Homo sapiens: one gene and its partners. The protein of the gene in region 2 purifies or fractionates together with the protein of the main gene of each other region. This does not show direct contact. Each region holds a gene or a part of one and is shown on either strand. Other genes may lie near its edges.

The links. Proteins that work in one complex are often made in the same cells at the same time.
Region 1: the proteins of CDRT15 (region 2) and DPY19L1 purify together in Homo sapiens (affinity purification with mass spectrometry; 3 studies listed by BioGRID and IntAct, with this or other methods). This does not show direct contact.
Region 3: the proteins of CDRT15 (region 2) and NUDT8 purify together in Homo sapiens (affinity purification with mass spectrometry; 3 studies listed by BioGRID and IntAct, with this or other methods). This does not show direct contact.

What each region holds. Positions count from the first base shown.
Region 1 is NC_000007.14:35,033,920-35,041,709, reverse strand, and holds the start of DPY19L1 (protein C-mannosyl-transferase DPY19L1), read left to right. Parts: upstream 1-4,224; 5' UTR 4,225-4,315; coding exon 4,316-4,613; intron 4,614-4,788; exon of another isoform or gene 4,789-4,924; intron 4,925-7,790. UniProt on the Homo sapiens protein: C-mannosyltransferase that mediates the C-mannosylation tryptophan residues on target proteins.
Region 2 is NC_000017.11:14,235,173-14,240,680, reverse strand, and holds CDRT15 (CMT1A duplicated region transcript 15 protein), read left to right. Parts: upstream 1-3,818; 5' UTR 3,819-3,847; coding exon 3,848-4,109; intron 4,110-4,250; coding exon 4,251-4,399; intron 4,400-4,669; coding exon 4,670-4,825; 3' UTR 4,826-5,008; downstream 5,009-5,508.
Region 3 is NC_000011.10:67,626,872-67,633,951, reverse strand, and holds NUDT8 (mitochondrial coenzyme A diphosphatase NUDT8), read left to right. Parts: upstream 1-4,014; 5' UTR 4,015-4,040; coding exon 4,041-4,234; intron 4,235-4,900; coding exon 4,901-5,033; intron 5,034-5,551; coding exon 5,552-5,629; coding exon of another isoform or gene 5,630-5,647; exon of another isoform or gene 5,648-5,700; coding exon 5,701-6,006; 3' UTR 6,007-6,014; downstream 6,015-7,080. Other genes in the region: T-box transcription factor TBX10, read left to right, coding at 849-1,004, 1,282-1,349, 1,540-1,634, 2,058-2,347. UniProt on the Homo sapiens protein: Acyl-CoA diphosphatase that mediates the hydrolysis of a wide range of CoA and CoA esters yielding 3',5'-ADP and the corresponding 4'-phosphopantetheine derivative as products.

The sequences.
Region 1 (7,790 bases), on a different chromosome or scaffold from region 2:
CACCTATTCCCTGAAAACTAAATCACGTTGGCCATCATCTCTTCCCTTTGGAAATCTTTTAGTACTTATTCTCTGAATCACATATTTTGCTATATATGTTTTTCTAGCTTACCCTGCCTGTCCAATGAAACTGTAAGCCCTTGGGGATGGGGATTTAGTATATGAATTTTAAGTGTCTCTAATATCTACTAAAGACACAGTAAGCCCTCAACAACAGGAATTACATTCTAAAGAGACATGCCTCTCTGCAACAGAGTGGTTCTTGATGATGCACTATAACTAGACCTAATAATGAACTCTGAGTTCCTCAGGAACACTCATTGGAGCATGAACAGTTTAAATTACAAGGTCAGCTCCAGGAAAGACAGAAGATAAAATGTGAAGAGCAATAGAGTAGCAATTTACATTTGTTCTCATCAGACTAAAAGAATATATTATAATATAGTGTCAAGTTAATGCTGGAGCTTTGGAAAGTAGAATGTTACAGACATATTTTGTTGCACCCATTTTAGGTTTCCAAGAAGTGTGCTGGAATTATGCAGGTTCCTCTCTTGGAATGAGCAACTGCTTAGCAAGACAAATGTCAGATTCTAGAACTTGACCCTAGGACACTTTTCCAATACAGTGATCAAGTGACCTAGTTCAAGGAAATGACAAATAAATGTCATGGATTTCTCATTCAGCTGTCACTCTATGGGTAGGAGAGCAAGTAGGAGGAAAAGGGGAATATTTAGAAGTTCTAAATGGGGCCTTTAAAATGCCAATGTGGAGACATAAGAAAACTGGTTCCCAACATAGTCTTCCCTTGACCAAATTTACTTTTTTCATTGCCCATCTGACAATGTTTCCCTGATTCCTATACCTTATTATCACTAAGCTTTATTTCTCCACATCTTGTTTTCTTCTATGATTTTATGTTCTTGCTTTTTATTTTATGCTCATTTCCTCCTTATAATCTCCTCTGTCTCCATCCCCAAAGTTTAAAAGATATGTCTTTTTAATTAAACATTTTTATTTCAATGCCCAAAGTGTAACTTGTAGTGAGAAAAAGACTCGGCTTGCACCCCAGGGGCCAGGGCAGCAGCAATTCTTTATAAGTGGTTGCCCTTTCAGGTTCCTGTCCTTAAAAATCTGTCTGCCCTGACCCAGTATTTCTATAGCATCATGCAGGAAGTACCTTTCTGGTGCATCTGGAACTCCCAGAAAAAAAGCACATTAAAGCTGGTAATTTTAATGCTTAATTTCATTATAATCTTAGATCCGTTCATAGATCATCCATGTACAAAATGTTTTTTTAATATGCAGCTTTCAGTTTGCCAGAGATTTTTTGTTTTTTAGCATCCACCGCTATGTGTGGCAGGCACTGGTCTACAGATACATATAGAAATTAACTGCATTCCCATTCTCTGCTCTTGTGGATCTCGTTGTACTAAGGATAAAATGAAATCTGGCACATAATCTTCCATGACTGTTCTGGTTTCCATTCCTCCACCCTTCCTGTGTGAAATGCCTCCCTTTTGGGAGGGGGCACGAGGAGTTGCCTACTATTTTATCCAGGCCTAAGGACCCATGAGATGGGCAACATTTGTAAAGCATCTGTGGAAAGCAGGAAACCATTCAGGCACATCAACTGCCCAGAGAGCTGAGAAGCTTGAAGCCCAGCAGGCCTGGCTTAAAGATCACGTGGCTGTTCTTGCTCTCCCGCTCAGAGTGGCATTCTCCCCTTGCTATACCCCAACTTGGAATGTCAACTTCAGGTTCTGGGAGGACAGAAGTTTGCCACTCTCCTTAAACGTCATCCACTACTTTGAACACTTATTGAGCAACTACCAACATCCAGACAATTTGAACATTCACTGAGCAACTACTTGGATATATGTAATTGTTAGATGCTTTACACACATTGTCTTATTTTTTACAAACCTGTGAACTAGATGTTTTTGTTGCCTCCATTTTAAGAATGAAGAAATCCAGACTCAAAGAGGTATAATACCTTGGTCAAGGCTGGTATGGGTCAATGTAGTGGCTGCAAACTGGATCTAAATTGACCGTGTTTAAGAAAAAAACAAACAAAACAAAAAAACCAAAAAACTAATACCTCACACTGCCCCTCTCCGCATGGTTGCCAAGCCGAGAAGGGGAACTGACAAGCACTTGTGGAACTGCATTCATTCACTCACTCATTCAACAAGTGTTTTCCTGGTACAAACGGTACCAGCTTAAGGGAGGCAGTTCCTGAATTCAGGGCCTATCACATAAAGTAGACACACAGCAATCTAATAATTCAAATGTTGAACCTCTTTTTCCATGCGTCTTTCTAATCATTAAAAAAAATCCATCATTTGTATTATTTTTATTTATTTATTTTTTTGAGATGGAGTCTCGCTCTGTCGCCCAGGCTGGAGTGCAGTGGCGTATCTCAGCTCACTGCAACCTCCGCCTCCCGGGTTCAGGCGATTCTTCTGCCTCAGCCTCCCAAGTAGCTGGGACTACAGGCGCCTGCTACCACGCCTGGCTAATTTTTGTATTTTTATTAGAAACAGAGGTTCACCATCTTGGCCAGGCTGGTCTTGAACTCTTGGCCTCGTGATCTGCCCGCCTCGGCCTCCCAGAGTGTTGGGATTACAGGCGTGAGCCACGGTGCCCGGCCAGTTATTCGTATTATCTTTAATAGGCATTGAATTAGCTTTCTTTTAACTGAATACATTCAACATTAATCCCAGAGGTAGCATTGAGTTCAGCTGACACAATGTTTCAGAATCCAAGCCTTCTGCATCCTACTTTCAACCATTATTTTTTAAACCAGTGTATAAAAATAGTTGTTCTTTGCTCCAATAAAGACATTGGAAAATCCAAATTCATAAACTAGACAGGGTATGAGGGAGTATTAATTAGCATGGCAAACACCCTCCCTTTACAAAATAATCCACTGTCTCTTAAAAAGGCTAACAATGAACGAATGCTGGTATTAGTAAAGAAATCACTGGGCAAAGAAACAAAGAGCGAGAAAGCCACGTGAAGTCCCTGGAATTACAATAGAGATAAGCAGAACGATGGGCCTTGATTTACAACATTGGGACTTAAAGACAACTTTTTGGAACAAGCCACTGGGCACGGCCAGGAAAGGAACCTCCCAGTTGTAATCCATGCTGTTGTAAGACTGTGTGCAAAGAATGCAGGGGTGGAGGGAGAATTGGGATCTACCTGGGTTTCTAAATTTTCCCGGGTTTAATTTACTCGTGCATTCTGCTATGTAAAAGAAAACATATTTTCGACTAAAATCTCCTATCTTATCAACGCCAAGTTTTCCTGCTTCCTATTAAGCAACAAGGTTACAGCAAGTGTAACAAACTGAATGTACTTATTGATGATCTTTCCTGCTCCAGCCAATCCATCCTATCACCTTCAGCCTGGCTCCTACCCTGGTCTTCAGTTTACACTTGTGCCTCGTCCCTTATCAGCTCCCCATGAGATTCCAGGCTGCTATTTTAATACTCTGTTACTATCTTAAATCGGGTCGCACCCGTTCTTCTTGTCGGTGAGTGAGGGGCTGCGCTCCAAGTTGCGCGACCACACTGCGGGGAGTAAACGGAGACGGTGACTTGATTGCCACCCGCGCGCTTCACATCGGTGGGGCCGACCAGGCGCCCAGGGCGCACGCACAGCGCCCCTAAGTGGCCGCTCCGGGCGCCTTCTCCCTGCCCCGCCGCGTCTCGCCTGCGCGGGCTCCAAGCGCAGCCTTAACAGGCTCCGAAACTTGAATCAGCGCCCCGATCCCGAGAGGGCTCTTCCTTCGGCCCCATCACTCCCACAATGGAAGGGCGGCCGCCTCCGGAAGGCCGTCCGCCCCCGCGTCCTCGCACCGGCCGAGCCCCGCGCGGGCGCCGAAGAGGTGTGGGTAGCCGGGCGCCAGAGGGGTCGGGCCCCGCCTGCGCCGGAAGTCCGCGCGTGCGCGCTGGCCGGCCTGGAGCGCGCGTCCGGCGCAGAGGGGCGGCGGGGGCGGGGCCGCGGCCGCTCGCAGGGTGTCCCCGCCCCCGCCCCCCGGCGTTCCGCGGTCGCCGTGACAACCGGAGCGGCGGCAACGGCGGCGGGCTAGCAAGTCCGGCGCCGCCTCCCGGCGGTACTGCCAGCCAGGCAGCAGCCGCCCGGCCTCCACGATCTCCCCGCCTCCCGGCCCGCGGGGAGGGACGAGCCCGCCCTCCACCCTCCGCCCGCCCGCCCGCTGGAGAGTGAGCTGCGCCCAGCCGCCCAGCCAGCCCGCCGTTCTCTGGCCGCCGTCCGGGCGCGCGCAGCGAGCGGGCGCGACTATGCCAAGATGGTCCTGCAGGCGCGGAACAAGCACCGGGAGGCGGCTCCCAAGCCGCCCCAGCCACCCCGCGCCTCACAGTCGCCGCTGAGGGGGGCGTCGGACGTCGGCGCCGGGGAGCCGGGGCCCGAGCGCGCGCCCCTGTCCCCGGGGCGCAAGGGCGCCGCGGGCAGGAAGGGGCCCCGCGCCGAGCCCGGCGCGCCGCCCGCCGGGGGCGGCCTTGGGGGGCGCCTGGCCGCCCGGCTGCGCTGGGCGCTGGGCCTGCGGCGCGCGGGGCGCGGCCGGACCTGGACCACGCTCCTGTTAGGTGAGCAGCCCTAGCGCCGGCGCCGCCGGGACGCGGAACTTTGAGGCGCTGGCCCCCTCCCCTCCCCTCCCCTCCCCTTCCTTCCCCTCTCCTCCCGCTTCCGCCGCGCCGAGCCCCGCCAGCCGGACCAGCCAGTTTGCAGCCCTCTCCGACTTTTTCTCTGGGACATTCTTACCTTCTCCTCCCCGCAACTCCCTGGCTCAGCTCTCCTCGCACGCTTCCCACCCGCGCTCTGCCTGGGCTTTAAAAGAATGGCCCGGGGATCAACAGCTGCCCGGCCTGGCCGCGGGCAGCAGGTCTGCGCTAACGAGACTTGAGCGCTGCTGATTGGTACGACTGGCCGCCTTCCCGTTATCTCGGCCTCTGACCGCCAGGATGGTTTGCTTTGGCTTGGAAACGATTCCGTGGAGCTCAAAGCAAACGCACGTTCCATGTCGTAGAGAGTTGCTTAAACTTATAATTAAATTTTAGCGTACTTTTTTCTTCCTGGCCGCAAACGCCGCTGGTGGCACTTTATTTGTGATTCCCCTCGACACGTCACTTTCTAGGTTGTGTTGTGTTTGGGGCGCCCGAGCCTTAATCCTCCCTGCTGCCCTTGGAACCTTTGGTGAGGAGGGCTCTCCTCCCCTCCCTCTGCCATTTACCAAATGGATGATGTGTAATGATGTGCTGAAAAAAAAAAACAAAGTTGACGCATTCGTATGTTTCGGACTGACTTCAGGTTTCCTCTGTTTCCTGGTTGAATTTTGATAAGGCAAGTTGTAGCAGTTTGGATAACAGGCCTAATTTTTCTAAGTCAACTAGTGAAATGCTGTTACATTGCTTTTTTCTATATGCCTCAGTGGGCTTTTCGCTACTGAACTATTTAATTACTGTTGATTTATCCCTTAGTATATTTTCAGATTCCCTTGGTGACTCAAAGTTCCCTTAGCCAGGAGTTGGGGTCCAGTATAAGTCAAGGAATAGGACACAGCAAATTGGCTTCCCCTGAGATCACAGCCACAAATAAAAGCCACTCAGTCATAAAAAGCCAGTCATCTCTGTATGTTTTAATGGGCTCAAGAAGGTTGTTCCTAGGGTACTTTTTTTCCCCCCATTGCCGATTCAAGCCTAGAAAAACCAAGTTTGTTTTTCTTTGTTTGTTTGTTTGTCTGTTTCCAGCACATTTCCCCCCGCCCCCTTTTTTTTTATCTCAGTAGCAAGCTTGAAAAGCTGGCTAGTATGCAGGTTAGAAAAGCTCACCTTGGGGAGGCAGCACGATACAGTGGATGAGGCAGAGCCTTCAGATCTAGTACACAGCGGTTCAGTTTGGTTTAAGTTTCAGGTTCCTTTGTGAGTCTTTCGTTCTCTGCTAGTGGGGGGTTATCACATGGCGAATTTACTCCACAGGGATCCACAGGATCTGTTAAGGATCATAACTAAAAGGTGTGGGTGATACATGGGAAGATACTTTGTGTTTAGAGCACTTGACACATTGTAGTTGTTGTAATAAAAGAAAGTGTGTGATGCTGATTTGAGATCTGATGACAGAATGGAGTTGCATTTTTATTGAATGACTAAACATTAACCACTTTGTAGTAAAATATAGAATGGCATTGCTTCTTCAGGGATGTTACAATAACAAATCTTAGAATAATGATATTTATTGCTATTTTCTGCATATTTTCTTTTTTGATTGCGTTTCCTTTGAATCTTCTTTGGATGGATGCATGACTTATATTTGGATGACTTACCTTTGGATTTAGTAATTCCCATACCTAAATACAGTTTTGTATTAATGTAACAGTATAGCACGTTGCTTGACTTGCCCCTTTGAGCATTGAAAGGAGGTACAGTGAATGTGGTAGATTGTATTTTTGGGTGTACCCTGGACCATGGCCATCAGATATATGGAAGTTGGATGAACAGACCCAGGTCTAGAGACTTTCTGTCCTTGTTAACCCTCTGCATGAGGCCCCAGGGCACCTTGAGAGATGATTCTGCTGAATGATTGGACCTGGGTTGCTTCTTTCTCTGGCTCTGTACCGTCATAAACTGATGTCAGACCTATTTCTTCCCCACGATTATGCCCTGCCACAGCGTCAAAAAACCACTCAGATCCTGCAGAGAGGAGCAGAGTTTAGACATTTTTGAAAGCTGCCTTATTTCCTGTTTTCTTCCCCCCTCCCAGAATGAGTGAGAGTTGAGCTGACATTATACAGTATTTCAATGTGGGACTTTAAAATAGCTGTTTGGTTTTCCACATTGCATTGCATATTCTTTTGTTCATCAAGAGTTCATTTGTAACTGATCAAAAAAAGAACAATTATAACAACTAAATATTAAGCTAGACAGAAATGGATTCATTTCTATTTAGAAAGTAATTTTGTAACTTAAAGCTCCGTGATAGAAACACACATTTTCAAGAGTTAGAAACTGTCTGGGGCTTTCCTCCATAGGTTCTAATCACTGATGAGGAACTCACTGCCTTCCAACATGGTCTTTCCACTGTTGGGCAGGGTTAAGCATTGTTGAAAAGTCTCTTTTCATAAATATATGTTTTTCTTATTGTGGGGCATTATTTGCTACTTATTTAGTGCTAATATTTGTAAAGAGGGGTTCTTGACATGTTTATTTTTAGAAGTTTCAACCTGATAGCTTCCTCATGCAGAGGTGGCTGTGACATAGTAAGAACCTTGACAATGTTTCCCAAACTTTTTTGACCACAGCTGACATTGTAACAATACATTTTATATTAAACCTGTTCACACTTCCACAATGCAACTCAGTACATATATGCATAAGTCTATATGTCTGTTGGTCTATTTATGTATGCCAGTGCTCCGTCATGGAAACAATTGTGGTAGTAAAAGATACACCCATTAGACATGCAAACAAAGCATGTCTGTGGTGAAAGACTAACATGAGATACTATATACACAACAATAAAACAAGAACCTGAGTATGGGAAAAGTGGATGATAAAAACTACCTTTTCCCCCCTTTGCATTAATCCTGTTTGACTCATTCCCATTGCCCACCTGGTTCCTGTGGTCAATGGCAAGGGTACACCTGCTATAACCTGGTTCCTTATTGACAAGGCTTTGCAACCTCAGCATTGTGGCATTTTGGGTGGGATAATTTTTTTGTTGAGGGGGCTTTCCTGTGCACTGCAGGATTTTAGCAGCATCCTTGGCCT
Region 2 (5,508 bases):
ATTGATGCATATGGAGAGAAATGTGATGAGAAAAACACTGGCAATTGCAGAATCTAGTCGGTACATATCTAGCGGGTATGTATCTGGATGTTAACAATTTCAACTTTTCTGTGTGTTTTAAAACTTCCCTATAAAACGTTGACAGGAATAAAATTATAGAAATTACAGTTTAAGAAAAATTAAATTGGCTGGGTGCGGTGGCTCATGCCTGTAATCCCAGCACTTTGGGAGGCTGAGGTGGGTGGATCACGAGATCAGATCGAGACAGCAGAGATGAATCATGTTACTCAACGTAGAAAGTTGCCATCAGTAAGTGAAACTGACAAAAGGATATCTTAAAAGACAAATGCTTCAAATTTAATATCTGTAAGGAAATACGGCTGGGTGCGGTGGCTCACACCTGTAATCCCAGCACTTTGGGAAGCCGAGGCGGGTGAATCACCTGAAGTCGGGAGTTCGAGACCAGCCTGACCAACATGGAGAAACCCCATCTCTACTAAAAGTACAAAATTAGCCAGGCGTGGTGGCGCATGCCTATAATCCTAGCTACTCAGGAGGTTGAGACAGGAGAACAGCTTGAACCCCGGAGGCAGAGGTGAGCCGAGATCATGCCATTGCACTCATGCCTGGGCAACAAGAGCAAGACTCCATCTCAAAAAAAAAAAAAATGCAGTTGATTATGGAGACTGATTAAGAAGTAAACTGCATGATATAAGGGGAACATATTAATCAAAAGTAGAATAATAAATTTCATTATATAAATGTTTTCGTTTTCTACAAGTTAATATATAAAGGACAATAGCATGGAATTAAAGGTGTTGTGTTTTTATTCAAGAATGATTTTTTTTTTAATTTTTGATGCAGAGTCTCCCTCTGTTGCCCAGGCTGGAGTGCAGTGGCATGATCTCGGCTCACTGTAACCTCCACTTCCCGGGTTCAAGGGGTTCTCATCCCTCAGCCTCCTGAGTAGCTGGGATTACAGGTGCCGAGCTACCACACCTGACCAAGAATATTTTCTTTTTTTTGAGATGGAGTCTCATTCTGTCGCCCAGGCTGGAATGCAGTGGCGCAATCTTGTCCTGTCTAACTACACTTTAGAACGCTTTCACCGTCTCCCCAAACCCCTGCCTCCCAGCCCCTGGTATCCTCCATTCTACTCTCTGCTTCCATGAGTTCAATTGTTTTACATTCCACATAAGTCAGATCACGTGGTAGTTGTCTTTTTGTGCCTGGCTCACTTCACTTAACATCATGTGCTCCATTAAGCTCCTGTGAATCCCAGTTTCTAACCTGCAATTGCTCTAAGTGTTTTCATTGCCTTTTCATGGTTTCTACTAAGAATTCCAGAGCCCAGCTGCAATGTTTTCACTGCTTTGGATGTTATTCATTGTTTTTCTTTACATCTTGTCCATGGACACACAAATAAATTGTCCGGTGCAAGTGCAGCGGCCGTATGCGCTTCCTGTGAAAGAAGGCCGGTTTGACATCTATTAAACAAATCCATCTCAGCATTCTTAACAGCCTTTATATTGTTTGATATCAAGCTCAGTCATTTAAAAAATATGCCTCTGTCTTTGTAAGATTACCTATGGGTTGGAGAAGACTTATGTAATATTCAACTCAGCAGATAATGTATATAAAAATTATTGCATATGATTTAATGATCTGGAATCAATTTTAACTGTTTATATGTCACACTTGGGAAAAAGCAGGACAATTATAAAATTTAATAATGGCATCTCCATAAAAAGCAATAATTCATATTCTACTTTAAAAATCCTTTCTCTTATGTAGAGGAGTAAGTGGCATCCTGGTGGCACCAGAAGGATGTACTGGTGAGCTTGTGTAGTGGTCACTAAGTTAACGCGTGTTGCTTTATTTGACTGATACTGATGTTGCCATCTTAGCTTCCGGCAGTTAGGTGGGCAGAAAACCCAAAGTTAGTAACTTTGGACAGTTGCAACAATGTTAGTAACTCAAGGGCCAAAGTGATGGATTAAACGGCCAGTCCAGGCAATCTCTGGTTCACCCTCATGATGACAGAGTGCTTTTAGGTAGTGAGGCAGTGCTTAGTCTCAAGGCAGCCTCCCTTCCCCTCATGCATTACCTGGTGTTTGTGGGCAGGAGTGTGGATCCTGTATACATGCCTGGGGTTGTGGGTGTGGGGAGGGGCCTCCAGTGTGCTGGGGTATACCCTGGGGCCTCTGTAAGTGCCTGATCCATAGATGCTCCCTGTGGCCTCGTCACAGGGGTCACCAGGCCCCTGGTGGCTTACAGTGTGGAAGTTGGAGGCTTCACCATAATCTGTGGCCTGAGCTTGGCCTCAGGGAATATTTCCAGGTGGTGTCAGCTGTATCTCCTCCTTACTCAGTGTCGTAGGGGAGCAGCGACTCTCTGGGACAGTGGGATGGGTGGTAAAAGAATTTACCAAGACAGTTGTAGGTAAAGAAAGGCAGATTCATTGGACACCACAGAGCTTACATGTTTGTGGTGATGTGGGTGTGAACATACGATTATCAACAGTGCATAATGCTTGATGAAAATAATAGATGCTGATGTTATTGTTTTATGTATTTAATATCCTATATTTTTTATTGTTATTTTAGAGTATATGCTTACTACTTTTTTTTAAGGTAACTGTGAAGCAGCCTCAGGCAGTTTCTTCAGGAGGTTTCCAGAAGAAGGCATTCTTATCAAGGAGATGACAGCTCCATGCCTGTTACTGCCCCTGAAGACCTTCCGGTGGGACAAGATGTGGAGGTAGAGGACAGTGAAATTGATGATCCTGACCCTGCTTAGCCTTAGGCGAAAGTGTCTGGTTGTGTCTTGTTTTTTAACAACAAACGGTTTAAAAGTAAAATAAATAAATAATGAAAAAAGCTCATAGAATAAGGTTAAAAAGAAACAAAATATTTTTGTATAGCTATATAATTTGTGTGGCTTTTTTGTTTATTTGTTTGAGACAGGGTCTCACTCTGTCACCCAGACTGGAGGGCAGTGGCACAATCACAGCTCACTGTGGTCTCAACCTCTTGAGCTCCAGAGATCCTCCCACCTCACTCAGGAGGACGTCAGTCCTCCAGGCAGACGTCAGTCCCCAGGTGGACCCTGGACTCAAAGTGTATACCAGGCCCCAAGTTGACAACCAGGCCCCAGATGGACACCAAGGCCCTAGGTGGACAGCAGGCCCATGTTGAACACCAGACTCATGAGGACATCAGGCCGCAGGTAGACATCATGCCTTAGGTAGATACGTAGGCTCCGGGTGGACATTAGACCCAAGGCTCCAGGTAGACATTAGACCCAAGTCCCCAGGTGATCATCAGGCCCAGGTGAAAACTCAGGCCTTAGGTGCACCTCTGGCCTCAGGTGGACACCCAGGCCCCAGGTGATCACCAGTCCCCAGGTGGACACAAGGCCTTAGGTGAACAACAAGACCCAGTAGGCCATCAGGCCCCAGCTGGATACAGTCCCCAGGTGAACACAAGGCCCCAAGAGGGACATAGGCCAAGGCAGACATCAGGCCCCAGGTGGACATCAGGCCTGAGGACGACATCTGGCCCCTGGTGAACATCAGGCACAGGTGTCCAAGCAGACCCTGGGTGGACATAACTGTGTACGGGTCAGGAGATGACCTGAGGGGAGGGTGAGTAGTCAGCAGCCCAGTGGAGTCCTGAGTAGGTCTTATGGAAGGAAGGGGACTAGGGGACAGAACCGTAAAGAAGCGACCTCACTTCCTGGATGATGACCACACGAACAGAACTTAGAACTCTGGTAACCAGGCACCCATATCCTAGAGTCAGCGCCGTAAACAGCTCACTTGGTGGGAGTCGCTCAAGAGAGCAAGATGTTCTCGTGTTGCTTCCCCACTTCGAGAGGTTGCTGCTTCAGGAATGGAGGGAGTGAGAGCCTTTTCCGACGATGCCGAAGAAGGCTCATCCCTCACCCCAGACGCCTGTCGCCCGTTGTAATAAGGCGCATCCAGGTACCACAGGACAGCCTGGGGCAGGCCCTAGCAGGCCAGGCCACACCAGAGATCCCATTGGGGCTGCAGCTGCACACTGTCCTTGTCCAGGAGATTCAGGAGCTCATTGAGGCACAGACACTTGGTGAGGTGGCCTGCAGCCTGGAAGACTTTGCGGGGGCGGTGATTTTGGGCTGGAATTCCCTTAAATTCAGTGAGGTCGTTTCTGTGTTTGGAAATTCCAGTGGAAAGTGACTGAGGCTGGTGACCCTTTCTCCTTTCTCAGCTCCTGGTCCATGTGCAGAAGTAAGAGCACTGCCAGCACCAGCGGCGGAGCCAGAGCCAGCATGGGAAGAGGCCCCTCCAGAGAGAGCACTGGAGCTGGAGGGAGCTCCAGCCAAGGACCAGACCAACGAGGAGCTGCCTGAAATCACGGCACGTACTGTAGCCACTAGCCCTAACCCTGGAACTGAAAGCGTGGCTGGAGAGAGAAGTGGGAGGGAGGGGGTGACCAGCACAGCCCCAGCCAGCAGCTCCCATGCTGCCCCTAGTCCTGGGCACGGTGGCAAACATGCAGGCAGAGAGCAGGGCATTTGGCCTGGCCTCCTGTACCTCGCTGGAGAGAGGCTTCTCTCATTCACTAGAACCACAGTCCTGCTGCTGCAGGTCCGTTTATTCTCCTGATCCTGGTTTATCTGTGTGCAGGAGGTGCCGGAGAGCATTAAAAGAAGGCTGGGAAGAAGAGTTCCAGCAGCTACGCCTGCTCCCAGAGGCAACCTCCTCCTCCAGGCATGGATGCGGGTCCACAGCTGGGCATCCAGGCTGTTTGCCCCTAATGTGCTGCCCGGGACAGGCCCTTAACAGGCGGGCAGTGGGTGAGGGGACCAGGAGGTGGCTCCAAAGGGTAAAGCAAACAAAGCTTTTAACGACAGCCGTTGTGCCCCAGGCTCTCCATGCCACCACCTGCCCTACCATTTATTAATAGTGTTAGAATTACAAGTTGATGAAACGAGATTACAATAAAGTTTGATTTCTGAAACTTCATGCCTTTTTGAACTCCCTAATGTTAGATGGTGTTTTTGAGGCTATCCTGAAAATCTCTGATAGTTGTGTCTTTTGTTGTGGTTGTTTGTGTGGCTGAATTACCATCGAGTCATCTGTTATTGGAAACCTTTCAGGTATGGCTTTTAGAAGACCTTGACCTACTCTTGACTGTTTTGACTCTCTGGTTTATTGTGGAAAGAGGGATGATGTAGGCTCATGTCTCCGGCAGATCAATCACCTTTTGCCATCAAGGATTTGGCATCAGAGTTTCCAAGAATTATGTGTGCAAGTTGATATGCTGCTACTTTAGCTAATCTGGGTGTCAAAACAGAATGCCATAGACTAGGTAGCGTAGAAAATTGATTTCTCACAGTTCTGGAGATGGTAAAATCCAAGGTCAAATTGTCAGCAGATTCCGTGGGGCTGACTTCCTGGTTCATAGACAGCCATCTTTTTTACTGTGTCTTTACATGACAGAAGGGATGAGGGAGCTCTCTGCA
Region 3 (7,080 bases), on a different chromosome or scaffold from region 2:
GAGAGGGAGGACAAGGTATGGAACGCCCAGCCTAGGCCGGGCCCGCTTTATGTGTGGACACAGCATCATTAACACTTGGTCAAACAGCCAACGATCCCTGCCCTCACAGAGGTCACTTCCTGGGGCAAAGGCAGGGTCCAGAAGACACTGTCCCCAGCGTCTCAGATAGGGACAAATGCCAAAGAGGAAGCAGAGGTACGGAAGGGGGGCGGAGAAAGGGTGCTGCTGCTCTCAGGGGGCGCAGGGAGCTGAAGACCTGAAGGAGGTGGAGGATGCAGCGGCCCATGCCCGTCAGAGGGGACAGTAGGTGCAAAGGCCCTGAGGCCAGAGAATCCTGGGCCGGCAGAATTGCAAGACGCATCCATGGGGCCGGAGTGGAGCCAGGAGGGGAAGCCAAGGAGGCGAATGCCTGAGGGGTCGGGCTGACTTCGGGGGGCTCTGGCTTTTACCGTGTGGGGTGGAAGTCGCTGGACGGTTAGGAGCAGGGGGCATATGATGTGGCTTCCCGGGCAGCTGTGTGGAGAAGGAACAGAGGGGTAAGGCGGGGACAGGGGACAGGCCAGGAGGCAACCGAGGAAACTGGTGAACGCGACAGTGACGGGCCAGCACACAGGCAGTGGGTGGCAGCTGGGATGTGGGGTGTGAGAGGACATGGAGGCAAGGATCCATGATCCAAAGGGGCCTTTGACACGGAACTGCAGCCTCTCCAGCTCAGACCCTGTGCTGCCATGAAAGGAACAGGGTGGCAGGCCCAGGGCAGTCTCCCGGCTTGGAGGGAAGGACTCCAGCCTCAGGGAGTCCGCTGTACTCCGCCTCACCCCTGTACCCCTGCTCTGTCCCTTCCACAGATCATTCTCAACTCTATGCACCGCTACCAGCCCCGTTTCCACGTGGTCTTCGTGGACCCACGCAAGGACAGTGAGCGCTATGCCCAGGAGAACTTCAAGTCCTTCATCTTCACAGAGACCCAGTTCACAGCAGTGACAGCCTATCAGAACCACAGGGTGGGTGAACCAGCTCGGGAGCACCCGCTGCAGGCCCATTTCACAGGGGTGGAGACTGAGCCCTGAGGCTTGCAGCCCTCACTGGCACAGACTACTGCCCTCCCAACTTGCCCTGAGTATCTGCCATCAGTCAAGGCCCTGCCCGCACTCCTATCAGCTCAGAGTTCCTGGGCCAAGAGGCCCAGGTGCCAGGGCCTCCTGACTGCCGGTTCCCGGGAGGACAAGGTGGCTGAGCCTGGCTCATGGCCAGCCCACAACTGCACTTTGTCTCCTGCAGATCACCCAGCTGAAAATCGCCAGCAACCCTTTTGCCAAAGGCTTTAGAGAGAGTGACCTGGACTCCTGGTACTGTCTGACCCTGACCCTAGCCCCTCACCCCCACCCCAGGCATATCCTAAGGCCTCAGTTCCTGACCCTTGTTTCAGGGTCACACCCTCTGACCCATCCTGGGGCCCCACCATCTGAAGCTGGCCATGATCCCTGGCCTGGGTTCTTCCCCTTGATCCCCTCCCCCCATTCTCGCTTGCTCTTTCAGGCCTGTGGCCCCACGGCCCCTGCTCAGTGTCCCAGCCCGGAGTCACAGCAGCCTCAGTCCCTGTGTGCTGAAGGGTGCCACAGACAGGGAGAAAGGTAAGGCCCCAGGCCTGCAGACATAGTGGGACTAAGGTGTACACAGTGGGCGGAAGGCAAAGGGACAGGACCTCCAGGAAGGGGCTTCAGCAGCTCAGCGAACCCACAGGGCCCCTGTGTGGACACACGGAGGGGGAAGCAGACATGCCTAAGACAATATGGGGCTCAGGGCAAAGAGCACAGGCAGGGGGTGCCAGGCAGGCTTCCTGCAGGAGGTGGCTCTCAAGCTGGGCCTTGGAGGACTGGGAAGGGTTTGGACAGAGGGAGAAGGTGAAGAAGAAATTCCAGGCAGAGGGAAAAGCAAAGGCGAAGGCTGAGAGGTAGGTAACTTGGGAAGGAGGAGCAGGAAGGGACCAGGGCAGGCCTGGGATGAGGGATGAGGATGCGATGGGAGGCCCAGAGTCCACTCATTTCCTCCCTCAGACCCCAACAAAGCTTCAGCTTCCACCTCCAAGACCCCTGCTTGGCTCCATCATCAGCTGCTGCCCCCACCTGAGGTCCTGCTGGCCCCGGCCACCTACAGGCCTGTCACGTATCAGAGCCTGTACTCTGGAGCCCCGAGCCACCTAGGGATCCCAAGGACCCGACCAGCACCATACCCCCTCCCCAACATCCGGGCTGATAGGGATCAAGGAGGCCTGCCTCTCCCAGCTGGGCTGGGGCTCCTGTCCCCCACTGTGGTGTGCCTGGGGCCTGGCCAGGACTCCCAGTGATGCCAGAAGCCCTGGGGGGAAGCCCTGCTACCCTGGACCTTACACCGGGTGTGGGAATCAGCCTCTGCCCCGCCCCCTCCAGCCCCATCTCTGTCTCAAGGAGAGCAGGGTAGGTGAAAGTCTAGAGAAAGAGGCTACCTGCCCAGGGTCACAGCAAGGCTGGGACCATGGCAAGCTTGGAACCAGGACTTCTATCTCCCAACCCCAGCAGCCTGAATACTGTGCCCTCTTGCTTTGGGGGTAACTCCCGAAAACCCTGCCTTACCTCTCCCTTCCCCCTAACATTAAACTATTTGGCATGAGTGGTCAGAGCACTTCTGTCGTCGTGGTCAGGGTGGGTGGGGGCCTCAGGAACTCCCAGACCCATCATAGTCCCCACATCAGCCCTGTAGGCATCCCGAAGCTCTGCCCAGTGCCGTCCGCATCCCTGGGAGCACACAGTAATATTAAAAGTGGTGACTCCAGCCCAGTGGCAGGGCTGCACTTGCCCAGATGAGGATCGAAACTGGCGCTCAGAGAGGCGCGGGACCTGCTCAACGTCACACAGCAGAGCATGGCGGACACCCGCCACCCCACGTTTAAATGCTGTGCGCAAGGCTGGGGTCATCTGGTCCCCAAGCCCAGGGTCTGGTGGAAGGGCGCAGAACCACGGTGGTCAGTGACCACAGGGGCCGAGGTAGGAAAGGGGGAGGGATTTGGGAATCCGGTCAAGACTCAAGGCAGGAAGGGAGAAGAGCTCTGGACGCTGGGACAAGGAGGTCAAAGGCCTGGGGCTGGAGTCCGACGGAGCCAGAGGGGAAGACAAGACTGGGGGCGGCGCGCGCCACCCAGCGGTATCGGGAGGGAGGACCGGAGGGAGGGCTGGGCCGGACGCTCCTCTCGCGCACCGATCGACCTCGGGTTCCTGGAGGGGCGTCCCCGTGGGATCCCGGCTCCGTACATCCTGGAGCCCCTAGGGGAGGGACGGACCAGTGGGGGCCGGCGGGGCCTCATCAGACACCCCAACGCCAGGACCCAACGGGACCGAGGACGGTCGCCGGGCGCTTCACGGTTCGCGTGGTTTCAGGATCTCGGAGAACACAACCGGCAGGTCCTGCAGCTCCGCGCCCATCTCCCTCCCCGCGGCCACACCCCCGGCCACGGCCCGGCCCTGCCGGAAGCACAGTCCTCCTGGCCACGCCCCCCAGTCCTTCGTAGCAAAAGCTCCGGTCCAGGCCCCGCCCCCAGCCCGCCCCAACCTCGATTGCCTACTAGGCCCCGCCGCCCTTTGGCAGTAACGTCCGAGTCCGGCTCCCGCGCAGGCCCCGCCCCGCCCCGCCCCGCCGCCCTCCGTCCCTCCCATCCGGGGGACTCAACGCGTCCCACCGAGGCCCCGCCTTCAAACAGGCCCCGCCCCCTAACGGACCCCGTCCCACCGAGGACCCGCCTTCAAACAGGCCCCGCCCCCGAACAGACCCAGTCCCACCGAGGCCCCGTCTCCGGGAAGGCCCCGCCCACGAACAGACCCACCCCACTGAGGCCCCCCGACGCCGCTGCCGCTCTGCAGCCCCCCAGGCGGGACGCGTCGCGCGGGCTGCCCCTTCTCCCTCTCAGCTTTCGGAGGGACCCGGGCTGAGCGCCCCGCCCCGCCTCGCCCCGCCTCTTCCCTCGCCCGATCCCGCGCCCTCAGTGTCCCGGCCGCGCAGGACTTGACATGCTGCCCGACTGCCTGTCGGCCGAGGGCGAGCTGCGCTGCCGCCGGCTGCTGGCAGGGGCCACGGCCCGGCTCCGCGCGCGGCCCGCGTCGGCCGCGGTGCTCGTGCCGCTCTGCTCAGTGCGTGGGGTCCCGGCGCTGCTGTACACGCTGCGGTCCAGCCGCCTGACCGGGAGGCACAAGGGCGACGTCAGGTACAGCGGCCGGGAACTCCTCGCCCTTTGCCGGAGGCTACAGGAGCCCGGGGCTGGCAGGGACCTCTGGCAGGGCACTTAGCCCCTTCGAGCCTCGGTTTCCGCCTCCGTAAAATGGGTCTGGGGAGAGTCCCTCCGCCCAAGGGCTGCAGCGAGAGGTCAGCGATCCGTGTCCGTCGGCCCCGGTGCACCTGCCGGGGCGCCACGTCCTCGCCGCGTGGGCCCCTCGTACGCGTCCTTGCGCGCACGCCTGGGCCGGGACACCCCTTTGAGCTGTTTCCCGCTTAGAGGGCGGACGCCGCCCCCTGCCGGCGACTACGGAGAGGTTCGGGCCCCGCCCGGCGGGAATTAAGAACATCCTGAGGACAATGTCAGTGTTGCTGGGGCCACCATAGGCCGAATTTGGGTATCTGAGCCCCAGGATCTTCTTGCCCCTGCTGCAGACCCTCTTATCCTGCGCTGTCCCGGGCCTCTCTTCCTTATCCCCATTGCTCAGGGAGGTAAACTGGCCTCCAGAGGTCGCATGGCTTGCCTGGGGCCTCCCAGTAAACTAGGGGCAGAGGCAGGCGACACTTCGGTGGGCCAGTGGCCCCCCCCGCACTGCCGATACCCCGACCTCTCCGTGGCCCCAAGAGTCCAAGGACCAGACTCCTTGTGTCTGTTTAGTTTCCCAGGCGGCAAGTGCGACCCGGCTGACCAAGATGTGGTGCACACGGCCCTGCGGGAAACCCGGGAGGAGCTGGGCCTGGCAGTGCCCGAGGAGCACGTGTGGGGCCTGCTGCGGCCTGTGTATGATCCGGTAAGCCACTTGGCTGAGGCCACCCCACCCCATTCACTCACTCTGTGCCTGCCCTGGAGCTGGGCTACCAGGGACCAGGAGAGTGGTCATGGACCCCCACGGGCACAAAGTGTGGAAGGGTGCCCCTAACCTGCCTGGTCACATGCACCACCCCACACACCCCCTCGGGAAGGGATTGGGGAGGCTCTGGTGTCCTGAGTAGAGGTGGCCCAGGGCGATGGGGTGGGCCAGCTCCACTCAGTTTGGTGGATTAGGGTCAGGGAAGCTTCATGGGGTAGGCAGGGATTGAACCCAGGCTTGAATGCCAAGTGGGAGATTGTCCTAAGCAGAGGGAACAGGTCTAGTGCATTTGAGGGGACCTGAGTCAGTCAGCATGGCTGGAGGACACAGGCAGGTGGACCCGAACATGACTACCAAAGGCCTATGCATGGCAAAGGGGTCTTCCTCTCACACTCCCCTCCCCAGCCTTCAAACCCAGCGAAGGCCATGCTTCCCTGACCACCTGCCCTCTTCCCCAGCAAAAGGCCACCGTGGTGCCAGTGCTTGCTGGTGTAGGCCCACTGGATCCCCAGAGCCTCAGGCCCAACTCGGAGGAGGTGAGCTGGGGGATATGAGGGGGTTGGGCTGTTCCAGTCCTCTGTCTACCCTCTCTGCCTCCTGCCTGCAGGTAGATGAGGTGTTTGCACTGCCGCTGGCCCACCTGCTGCAGACGCAGAATCAGGGCTATACCCACTTCTGCCGGGGTGGCCACTTCCGCTACACACTACCCGTCTTCCTGCATGGACCACACCGGGTCTGGGGCCTCACAGCTGTCATCACTGAGTTTGCCCTGCAGCTGCTGGCACCTGGTACCTACCAGCCCCGCCTGGCCGGCCTGACCTGCTCAGGGGCTGAGGGTCTGGCCCGCCCTAAGCAGCCCCTGGCTTCACCCTGTCAGGCCAGCTCCACTCCAGGACTGAATAAAGGTCTTTGACAGCTCTAGAGCTCTTGCTTCTGCTGTACTGGGGCCTTGACCTTGGGCAGACCACTCCAGGTCGCTGGCTGGGGCTCCTCCTTCCAGTCACGCCATGCCCCACAGCAATGGACACTTCCTGGGTGCCAAGTACTTGGAGTCAATTCATCTCACCCTCACAACAGCCCATAAGGCAGGGCCAACACTGTCTCTGGCTGGTGAGACTGCTTTCAGGGAGGAGAGACACCTTGCCTAAGGGCCCCACGCTGGGATTGGAACCAGAGCTCTCAGACTCCACAGCCCAGACTCTTAGGCACTGCACTGCCCTGTCTCAGCCTGCACCTCCTGTTCTCTCTGCTGTGCCTGGCTGACGCTGTGCTGGGCTCCGGGATCCCAGAGAGGAGTAAGGCGCACCCATGCCCCTGGGTGTTACTGCAGGAGTCTAACATGCAGAGCCCCTGTGTGTGCCAGCTGCTGTGTGGGGGCCACAGCTGTGGACCGGTCAGATGCTCACCTGCCGTCCAGAGGGGGTGCTCAGTCTAGGGGAGACCTCAGACCAGGTCACACAGATAATCATGTGGTTCCACATTAATTAATCACAGATAATAGTGGAATTATATAAGACATCAACTAGGTAGACCAGGGTTCTGTGAAAGAGCTGAGGGAGCGGGTGGTCTGAGCTTGCCGTGGAGGATGGCTGGATCCAGGGGCTCGGGCTCCCCTCTTGCTGTGCTTTGCGCTGTGCTGGCCTCAGCCCCAAGGAGGTTGTCTGTAGTGCAGAGCGTGAGAGGTTGAGGAGAGGGCAGCAGCATCCATCAACAGAAAACACGGCCGCTCCTTCCCGGCCAGTCTAACCTAGAATTGCACTTCACTGGCCTGCCTTGAGTCACATGTCCTTCCCTGAGCCTGTCACATGGCCGGTTGTGTGTCCGGAATTGGTGGGTTCTTGGTCTCACTGACTTCAAGAATGAAGCCATGGACCCTCACAGTGAGTGTTACAGCTCTTAAGGTGGTGCGTCTGGAGTTTGTTTCTTCTGATGTTCGGATGTGTTTGGAGTTTCTTCCTTCTGGTGAGTTCGTGGTCTCGCTGGCTCA